Linked DNA regions of Homo sapiens: all the other regions are linked to region 2. The links come from fine-mapping of genetic effects on gene expression. A gene starts in region 2. Each other region holds a variant in brackets. All regions are shown on one strand. Distances are between the middles of the regions. Region 1 has its middle 28 kb from the start of LINC02414. Region 2 holds the start of SFSWAP (splicing factor SWAP). Region 3 has its middle 24 kb from the start of LINC02370.

Evidence for each region. PIP is the estimated chance that this variant, and not a neighbour inherited with it, causes the effect. A credible set is the group of variants that fine-mapping cannot tell apart.
Region 1: its variant is the best candidate, but not a certain one, in a credible set for the expression of SFSWAP in whole blood (TOPMed, PIP 0.52).
Region 3: its variant is the best candidate, but not a certain one, in a credible set for the expression of SFSWAP in whole blood (TOPMed, PIP 0.62).

Annotation. Positions count from the first base shown.
Region 1 is chr12:131,674,807-131,677,563 of GRCh38, reverse strand. No RefSeq gene overlaps it. Among named protein-coding and RNA genes, the nearest start is that of LINC02414, 28 kb to the right of the region's middle. The variant T/A (reference allele first, on the strand shown) is at 1,056.
Region 2 is chr12:131,709,819-131,712,575 of GRCh38, reverse strand. SFSWAP (splicing factor SWAP) reads right to left here and starts at 1,486. Exons shown (of 18, transcript NM_004592.4): 1 at 1,129-1,486. The coding sequence starts at 1,346. RefSeq lists enhancers at 1,252-1,321, 1,412-1,701, 1,842-1,931.
Region 3 is chr12:131,370,082-131,372,838 of GRCh38, reverse strand. No RefSeq gene overlaps it. Among named protein-coding and RNA genes, the nearest start is that of LINC02370, 24 kb to the right of the region's middle. The variant A/T (reference allele first, on the strand shown) is at 1,608.

The DNA of each region.
Region 1 (2,757 bases), 35 kb after region 2:
GACCTTGGGCCAATCCCCCAAGGTCAGCCCTTCCAATGGGTTCCATCACCTCTAAATTGCACCTCCCAGGAGAGCACAAAATGAGAAAAAGCGCTTAAAACCCTGAGCATGGATGGCTCCTGAGATAGCCAGTGGGTCGGGGGCTCCATCCAGCCTGGGATGCTCCATGTAGTCCATATGGCATCCTGTGAAATTCTGAGTCTGTTGCCAATAGTTCAAAGTTGGGATGTTTCAGGTAAAACCTGGATTTCCACCTCATCCTGGAGAACCAGAAGTCCCGGCAGCCCTGGGTGCACCCGGCCACAGTCTGCTGTCAGAGTCAAGGCTGGGGGCTGCTCCCCAGTGACCCAGCTCCCACAAGCTGGACTGGCAGCCACATCCACCCAGCCCCATTGGTGCTGTGACCCTGATGTGACCTGGGCCTCTGCCACCGAGGCCCTGAGCCCCCCTCCCCCAGCGAGAGGCCTACGGCCTCTGGAATAAGCTCAGTGGGGAGCGGCCTGCTGTGGGGACGCCTCTCACCACAGGTTCCCCCTGAGTTTTAAACAAAATGCACATGTGCACACACGCACACACTGAAACACACATCTGCACAAACCTGCACACAGCTACACACCCACACGGATGTACACCACACACATGCCATGCACACACATAGACACACGTGCACTCACACTCACACATCCCAGACATGTGCGCACACTTATGCACACATGCTCAATGCACCTGCACAGAGCAATGTACACACATATACATACACTCATATCCACACACCCCATGTACATGTGTGCACATGCATGCTTAAGTACACCCAAACATAGCACATGTGTACACATATACACACATCTCTACATCCCACGTACCCGTGTGCACATGCATGCTCAAATACTCATAACACACACGTACACACATATGCACACATGCACACTCATATCCATACATCCCATATACCTGTGTGTACGCACATTCTCAAATACACACCTGCACAGAACACATGTACACACATATACACACAACCAAAAACACATCCATGCACACATACACACATATGCACA[T/A]GAAAACACGTCTGCACATTCATGCATACTAGACGCACACAACATCCACACACCCACATGGATACACAGATACACACGCACACTAACATCCACTCAGCTCCACACACATGCATGTGCACACCTGCACACACACCTGCACACACCTGCACACACACCTGCACACACACCTGCACACACACGCCCACATCACAGCTATATGAACACCTGTACACACACATGCCGCATGCACACCTGCACACCCAGCCTGTCTCCCAGCCTTAGGACAATGACATTCTCCCTTCAGGGTTCCCAAATCCATGACTACACTCACTCAACCCCTCTGCAGGGCCGTGCAGACCCCGTATCTGCTGCCGGAAAGGGAGGCAGTGGGGGATGATGAGAAGCTCCTGTGACACCAGGGATCCAGTGTCCCCTGCACCCATGGGGGTGGACGATTGGTCACTGAGGCTGGTGGCATTAGAGAGGAGAGGCATCAAAATCCCCCGTGGGACAGATGTGGGAAAGGATGCATGTGGGGTGAGGACGGGGTGCTTGAACTGGAAACCAGAGCTCCAGGGTTTCCTCCAGAAGGATCAGGTGGAGACCACAGGCTGAGAGTCTTCTAGTCAGGGGTCAGCAGGAATCAGCCTCGGGGCCTGGCTCCCTGCAGGGGCAAGGGGCTGGATGGCCACCGTGGACTCAGCCTCCATGGATTGTGAGGGAAAAGCTCTTGCCCCTGCAAATCCAGCCCACACCTGCCTCGCTGAGGGACTCATCAGCACCTTGCAGGACCCTCCACTCACCACTAGAAACAGAATGTGCTTGGGTCACTGACTTACTGTTCCTCAAGGGAAAGTTAGGAGGGACCAGTTAAGTTAGAGCTTAGGGGGTGCAGAGACCCTTCGTCAGGAACTCAAAGTGGAAACAGAGCCCAGGCCGTTATTCCGCATCTACTCACCCCTCCCTCTGGAAGGGATCAGAGGCATCTCGGGGTGGGAGCCCCTCCTGGACGTCAGAGCCCAGGGGAGGCCCCATCCTCTCTCCTCGGATGCCTGAACCCAGGGGAGGCCCCGTCCTCTCTCCTCGGATGTCAGAGCCCAGGGGAGGCCCCGTCCTCTCTCCTTGGACGTCAGAGCCCAGGGGAGGCCCCGTCCTCTCTGCTCTGTGGGACGTGCCCAGGCCCGAGGATGGGGGACCAACAATGGGCTCTTCACACAGAACCAGATTGTTTCATCGACCCTGGGAGTGAGGGTCCTGGGTGCTCTGTGTCCCTGATGAATGACACACCTTCCTAGCAAACTACAGGGAAATGTCATCAAATCAAGCTGCTGGTTCTAACCCCAGAACTTACATGAAATGCAGGGAAGGGAGCAGCATCTCCAAGGACGCCTGGGGATGTGATCAGCACCATCTGGACACGGGACTCACAGGACAAATGGCACAGCCCCGTCCTTCTGCAAAGAAATCACGGGGAGAAAAGAAGGGGCTGGAGGAGAGGGGAGAAGGAAGATGGCAGACATGTGTGGAAACCTCCCCCCATAACCAGTGGTGTGCTGGCAGAGGCGGAACAATGGGATCTCTTGGTGTGTGTGTATACTCACGCACCTGTGCACAGATTTTCATTCTTACTGATACAAAGGCTCAGCAGCACCCAGATTTTGAATAGTGGAATATACCATGCCCTTTATTGTGGATTCCATATTGCAACCAGTTGTTGCAGGAT
Region 2 (2,757 bases):
GGTCATCCCTACAGTCATGCTCCAGGGCTATGAAGAATCCAGTTTTAATGGTCTCAAACGATGGGCTTTCTTCACGTGGAGAGACTATTCCACAGTTTAATGGTTGGTCATGGTTAGCTTTTCAGTCCGGGCCCCAGAAGTAGCCGAACAGGCAAAAAAGAAAAAAAACCACCCCACAACAACCCCAAAACCCAGAGACGAGGGGAAGGGGGATTGAAAAAATGGGAAGAAAGAGGGGAGCAAACCACCTACATCATGTAATGTTATCCTTTTCAAATCAAACGCCTTTAGAAATCCCTAATCCCAGGCCCCCACTGCCCATAATCGCTAGACACCCTCGAGTGACGACCTAAAGCAGGTTTGATTTGAAAAGAAACAACACATCTATATCCCAGCTCCACCCTTCAGTCTTAAGAGACAGTGAAACCAGCCCTAAGAACACTATCTCTTCCAAGAGCAAGGCCAGGGTCCGCACGAAGTCAAGTGGCCACCAACTGACGGGCAACTTTGCTCACTACCTCAATCTGTCAAACTCGTCGGATTATCACCGGGAAATCAAACGTCATGCCGGCAAAGTACGGGCGCTCCACTGAGGGCTCTGGGGGCATAACAGGTTAAGGCTAACTCACAGGTCCAAGAGACACTTCTAGCCACTGTCTCAGTGAGCGGCGGTTCGGAAGAATAAAGGCACGCCTCCCAGGGTACCCTCCCAGTACACCGAGCAGTGAGAGCGCGGCAAGTAGAAAAGCAGCGCACGACCCCATGGCATCGCCGGGCGGCAGGCCCAGGTGCACTCAGGAAAAGACCCTGGGCACTGGCTGCTTTCACCGCGCGGAATCGCCAACTGCAGCCCAGCGACAGGGTGAGGGGTCGAGAGGGGCTGCGGGACCAGAGACGATCCCTCCGGAGACGGACGCGGCACGCAATTCCAGCCAGTGCCTTAGGGCAGGTTTCACCGTCCCCCTCCCCACCAGAACACCAGGAGGAGGTGGGGACAGGGGAGGGGGTGTCCCCCAGATCCCCGCTGGCTCCAGAAAACTCTCTGCAGTCCTTGCAGTCAAGTCAACATCAGACGAGATCAAGCGGGTGAGGGAAGGGAAGGATCGACGGGTGGGGAGAGGAACCGACCTGTCGATGAGGATCTTGTGGTCCCCCATCCAGGGGATGAGGTGCTGTCCCTGTTCCTGAGCCAGGGCCCGCTCGTCGTCCCGGAACAGCTTGCAGGCATAGCCGAAAACCAAGAGCTCCACTCGGCTGCCCCCACCGCCGGCACCGCCTGGCCCGGCCTCCTCCTTCGCGCCGCTTTTCCTCTCGGGTTTGGCGCGGCCCCCGCTCGCGCCGTACATGACAGCGTCCCCGGCGTCCAGGCTGGTCCTCTTCTGTGCCGCGCGACGTCCCTGATACCTCCACTTGGCCTACCCCTTCAGTCAAAGACCCCGCATCCCGTACCCAACCTCAACACCGCCGCCATAGCGGGCCACAAAATGGTGGAGGGGCAGCTTCCGGCAGGAGAGCCCGCATTTCCGGCGAGCGGACCGGCAGATTCGCCTAGGCTTGGAGCTCTTTTAGCCGCTAGGAAATATTTTGGCTTTAATTTTCGCATTCAGGTGTGCCGCCACAATAGGCGCTGCTGTATTCAGTGGAAAGTGCAATTTTAATGTCCGTTTTATCGGGCAGCCGTCAGGACGTGGCGAAAGCGCAGCGTGGGATCGCGCGCCGGCTTCCGCTGCGGCCAGTCGGGCGGCGACGGAGTCGGAGGGAGGGGCCCGGCGCGCTCTGGGCCTTGGGCGAGTCCTCGTGGGTGGCGGGTTGCTGCAGCCTGCCACATGTGTGGAGGCCTCGGGTCCACCCCGAGCCTCCGCGCCCCTCACCATGTCCGAGTCGCTGGGGCCGTGCGTGCTCTGCCCAGGGTGGCGATGTCCTTTTCCTTGGCCCCGTTTCCTTCTCCATCCCTAGGGGGACTTGGTCCCCGACCCGCCCACCTTTGAAGGTTTCCGAGGCAGCAGAGGCCCCTGCGCTGCAAATCACTCGCGGGTGGCGAGATTTCGGAAACCTGAGACCCTTGTCGCCGGGAGATGGTCTGGCGGGGCAGGGAGACCCCAGTCTGGAGACTGGCCACCTGGATACGGTGCAATTTTGCTTGGTGTGTTTCCTCCTGGGCCGCAGTTTTCCCATCGGTGGTTCCATTAGGATCTTTCGGTCCCTTTTAGCTCAGTAATTTCAGGTCAGACAAAGGGCCTGGAGTGCAAAATCTTAGGCTTTGGGATGGGATGGGATATCCCCATGTTTGCCCTTGAGTGGAAAACGATGACAGATCGTCTCCTTTCTGGGCCTCAGATCCCCTCTCCATAAAAATGGAATCTTTCTACCAGTGATGTTGAAATGAGATAATGTATATGAACCTTTAACTGATTTTTGGAAATTAAGAAACAGGCAGTTCCCACCAAACGTCTTTTGTTGTGGTTTCCCCTGACTGGGTCATGCTTCTGTCTTCATTTGCCAGGCTCCTTACCCAAGTTTAACTCAGTCATCCATTTCTCCACCTGGCCTTATGTGTCTACGTTGTCTGGAGTTTCCCCTCACTGGTGGCTAACTTGTGCCTTCCGATTTGTCTGTGTACCTCTCATCACCACCTTAGGTTACATCCTGTGTTCAGCATCCCACCAGAATTAGCTTTAAGAGATCAGGGACATTGTTGGGGTCACCTTAGCATCCTCAGCACCTAGAATGGTGCTTAGCACACTGTGGGCCAAATAC
Region 3 (2,757 bases), 340 kb after region 2:
GGAGGGATGGATTGATGGAGGGATGGATTGATGGAGGGATTGATGGATGGATGGATCGATGGAGGGATGGATTGATGGAGGGATGGATTGATGGAGGGATGGATGGAGGGAGGAATGGATTGATGGATGGAGGGATGGATGGATGGAGGGCTGGATGGTGGTGATGGTTGCACAGTAAAAGCAATGTACTTAGTATCATCAAACTGTACACTTAAAAATGGTTAAGATAGTCAATTTTATGTTATGTGTATTTTACCACGATAAAAAAAATTGGCCCCCAAGCCCCACAATATATTAAAAACAGCAAACATTTAAACTTACCTTCCAGGAACCTCAAAGATGCACAGACATGCGGGCCACTTGCTTTTGCCCTTGGACCCACTCGCTGACCTTGCTTTGCTCTTTGCTTCCCAAGGGTGCTGTACTCCCTGGCCTCCTTGTCCCCCATTTCTGGGCAGTTCTTAAGCAGGCAGTTACCGAGGCAACAGGCAAGATTACCTGCAGGCGGCTAAGAGCAAGCCAAATGGGGCCAACAGGTTAGCACAGGGGCCCCGGTCAGTAACGGACGCTCCAGAAAGTGGCTGGGACAGACATCTGTGGTCACCCGCAGTGGGCAACTTCCTTGCTGAAGGAGGAGTGACTGTTGGAGGAAAAGTCCCAAAGGCCGAGCCAAGAACCATGTCCTTATGTTGAACTTTGCTCACTGTAATAGTGAAAAACACATGCCTGGGCAGAGATTTAAAATGCTAATGAGACAGGCAATGTATGTGCCAGCATGTACAGTGACGGCCTCTGTAGGCCCAGGAACCCACCCACAACATGCTTAGTTCCTGCTCCTTCAGGAATAATCATGTGAGACTCCCATCAAAGGAACTTCCCAGTGCCAGTCTCACTGTCTTATTCCAGAGCAGCCCGCTCTGACCCAGCTAGTGGTGCACACTTTCGCTTTGCAATAAACTTCTTTGCCCACTCTTACTTTGGACTTGCTCCCAAATTATTTCGTGCACAGATGTCAAGAACCTGAACAGGCCCACCCACAGCATCCCTGGCCAATGGGAGGCCTCAGCAGGACATGGCAGGCGGGAGATGTGGGGAGGCCACAGCCTGGTGCTTTTCTGTCTCGCTCCCTCCGGTGTGTCTGGCTTGTCTGGGAGCGTCTGCTGTTACTGAAGTCCCAGCTTTGCCTCCGTCTTTCTCCCTCTAACCCAAGACAAAGAGCAGTGTGCTGGATTCCTGCTGTTGCTAAATTCTGGACTGCTCCACGCCCCTGGGTTTGGCTTCTGTGTTCTTCCACCCATTCTCTGCATTACATTTCCTCCCTGTGAAATGTCTTGAGTCAATTCTGTCTCTCGACTAGACCACGCCTGCAACACTAACTGTTCCGTTCGGACAGAAGGTTCCTGAGAACACACTGGCGCTGCTGCGCTCCACAGGACTGCTGCTCACAGGTAAGATGCAGAGGAGAACGGTCGCCACAGCCGTCTCAACGTCCAACAGAATTTTCACTGTGCAGGCGGTGATTTATTTTCTTTCTCCACCAACTTGGTTGGCCTTCATGCCACGGGGATGAGCAGCCTAGGACCCTGGTGAGGCCACGGCTCCAGTAG[A/T]CCCTGACAGTGAAGCTGTGGTCCCTGGTTAGCGGTCACTGCCTGACACTTAGGGCCTCCCTTCATTCCTCCAGGGAGCCGAGGTGCATGTTCGTGCCATAGAGAGGCCCACGCTTTTCATGCAACACAGCCGGTAAATGCAGACTCACTCCCTGGCCTGGGGCTCTGATGGAGACACAGGAACCTGGTCCCTGGCTGCAGGAAGCAACACCCATGGGTCCAGGGAGGGGTGTTGTGTCCGTCACTGTATTTCAAGGGCTTACGAAGGTGTTGCCTTTGGTCATTCTGCTATTTGTGACTTCATCTTATGTACTAACGTTAGGATGCTACTTCTGAAAAGGATGTGACTCACTTACTCTATTAAAAAAAAGAGTAAAGTTTTTTCTTTAAGGAGCCTGCTGCCTGAGGGAACCCTGTACAGTTATGGGGTCAGGAGTGGAGCCTCAGGCCAAGTGATTAAGAACAGGAAGAGATTCTGGGCAGAAATGATCGATACATTTATAAAGGAGATTCTATTGGTTCCACGTCTGAAGGATGAAAATACAGAAGGTCAATTCACACAGAGCATACACTCTGTGCCTGCCCTGTTCAGGTTAAATCCACACCAAAGCTCATTCTGCAAAAAACGAAATGGAGACACAGAGTGAATAATCAGCTCCCTGCACCCCACGCTCTGTAAACCAGGACACTGGCCCTCTCGCTCCCGAGTCCATGCCGCGAGCACTGACTGACCCTGCCTGACCCTGCCATAGAAGCAGGGCTCTGGGCTGCTGATTTCCAGTAGGAAATTCAACAGCTCATCAAACCCATGGTTGCCATGGCCTGGCCGGAAGAGACTCTTCTCCCCTGAGGAGTAAGAGTGAAGGGTTATCAGATTCTAAGAGTCTTGGGAGGTTGCTTTGTTCAGGAAAGTCACCTCCTTCGTGGGGGTCCCTCCTCCCACATCTATTCCTGGAAACCCAGGTTGGCTAGGGACACGACGGGGCATCGCTTGAGGTAAGAAGACCCCCCAACACTGTTTTTTTGGGGTGGGCCACACCCTCCTGGGGTCACATTGGACACCGACGGTCTGCTTCCCCTCTGAAGGGCCCTGGTTCTCACTGCTTACCACAAAGGAGACCCCTGAGCCAAGGGAGGCTCCCCGCTGGCT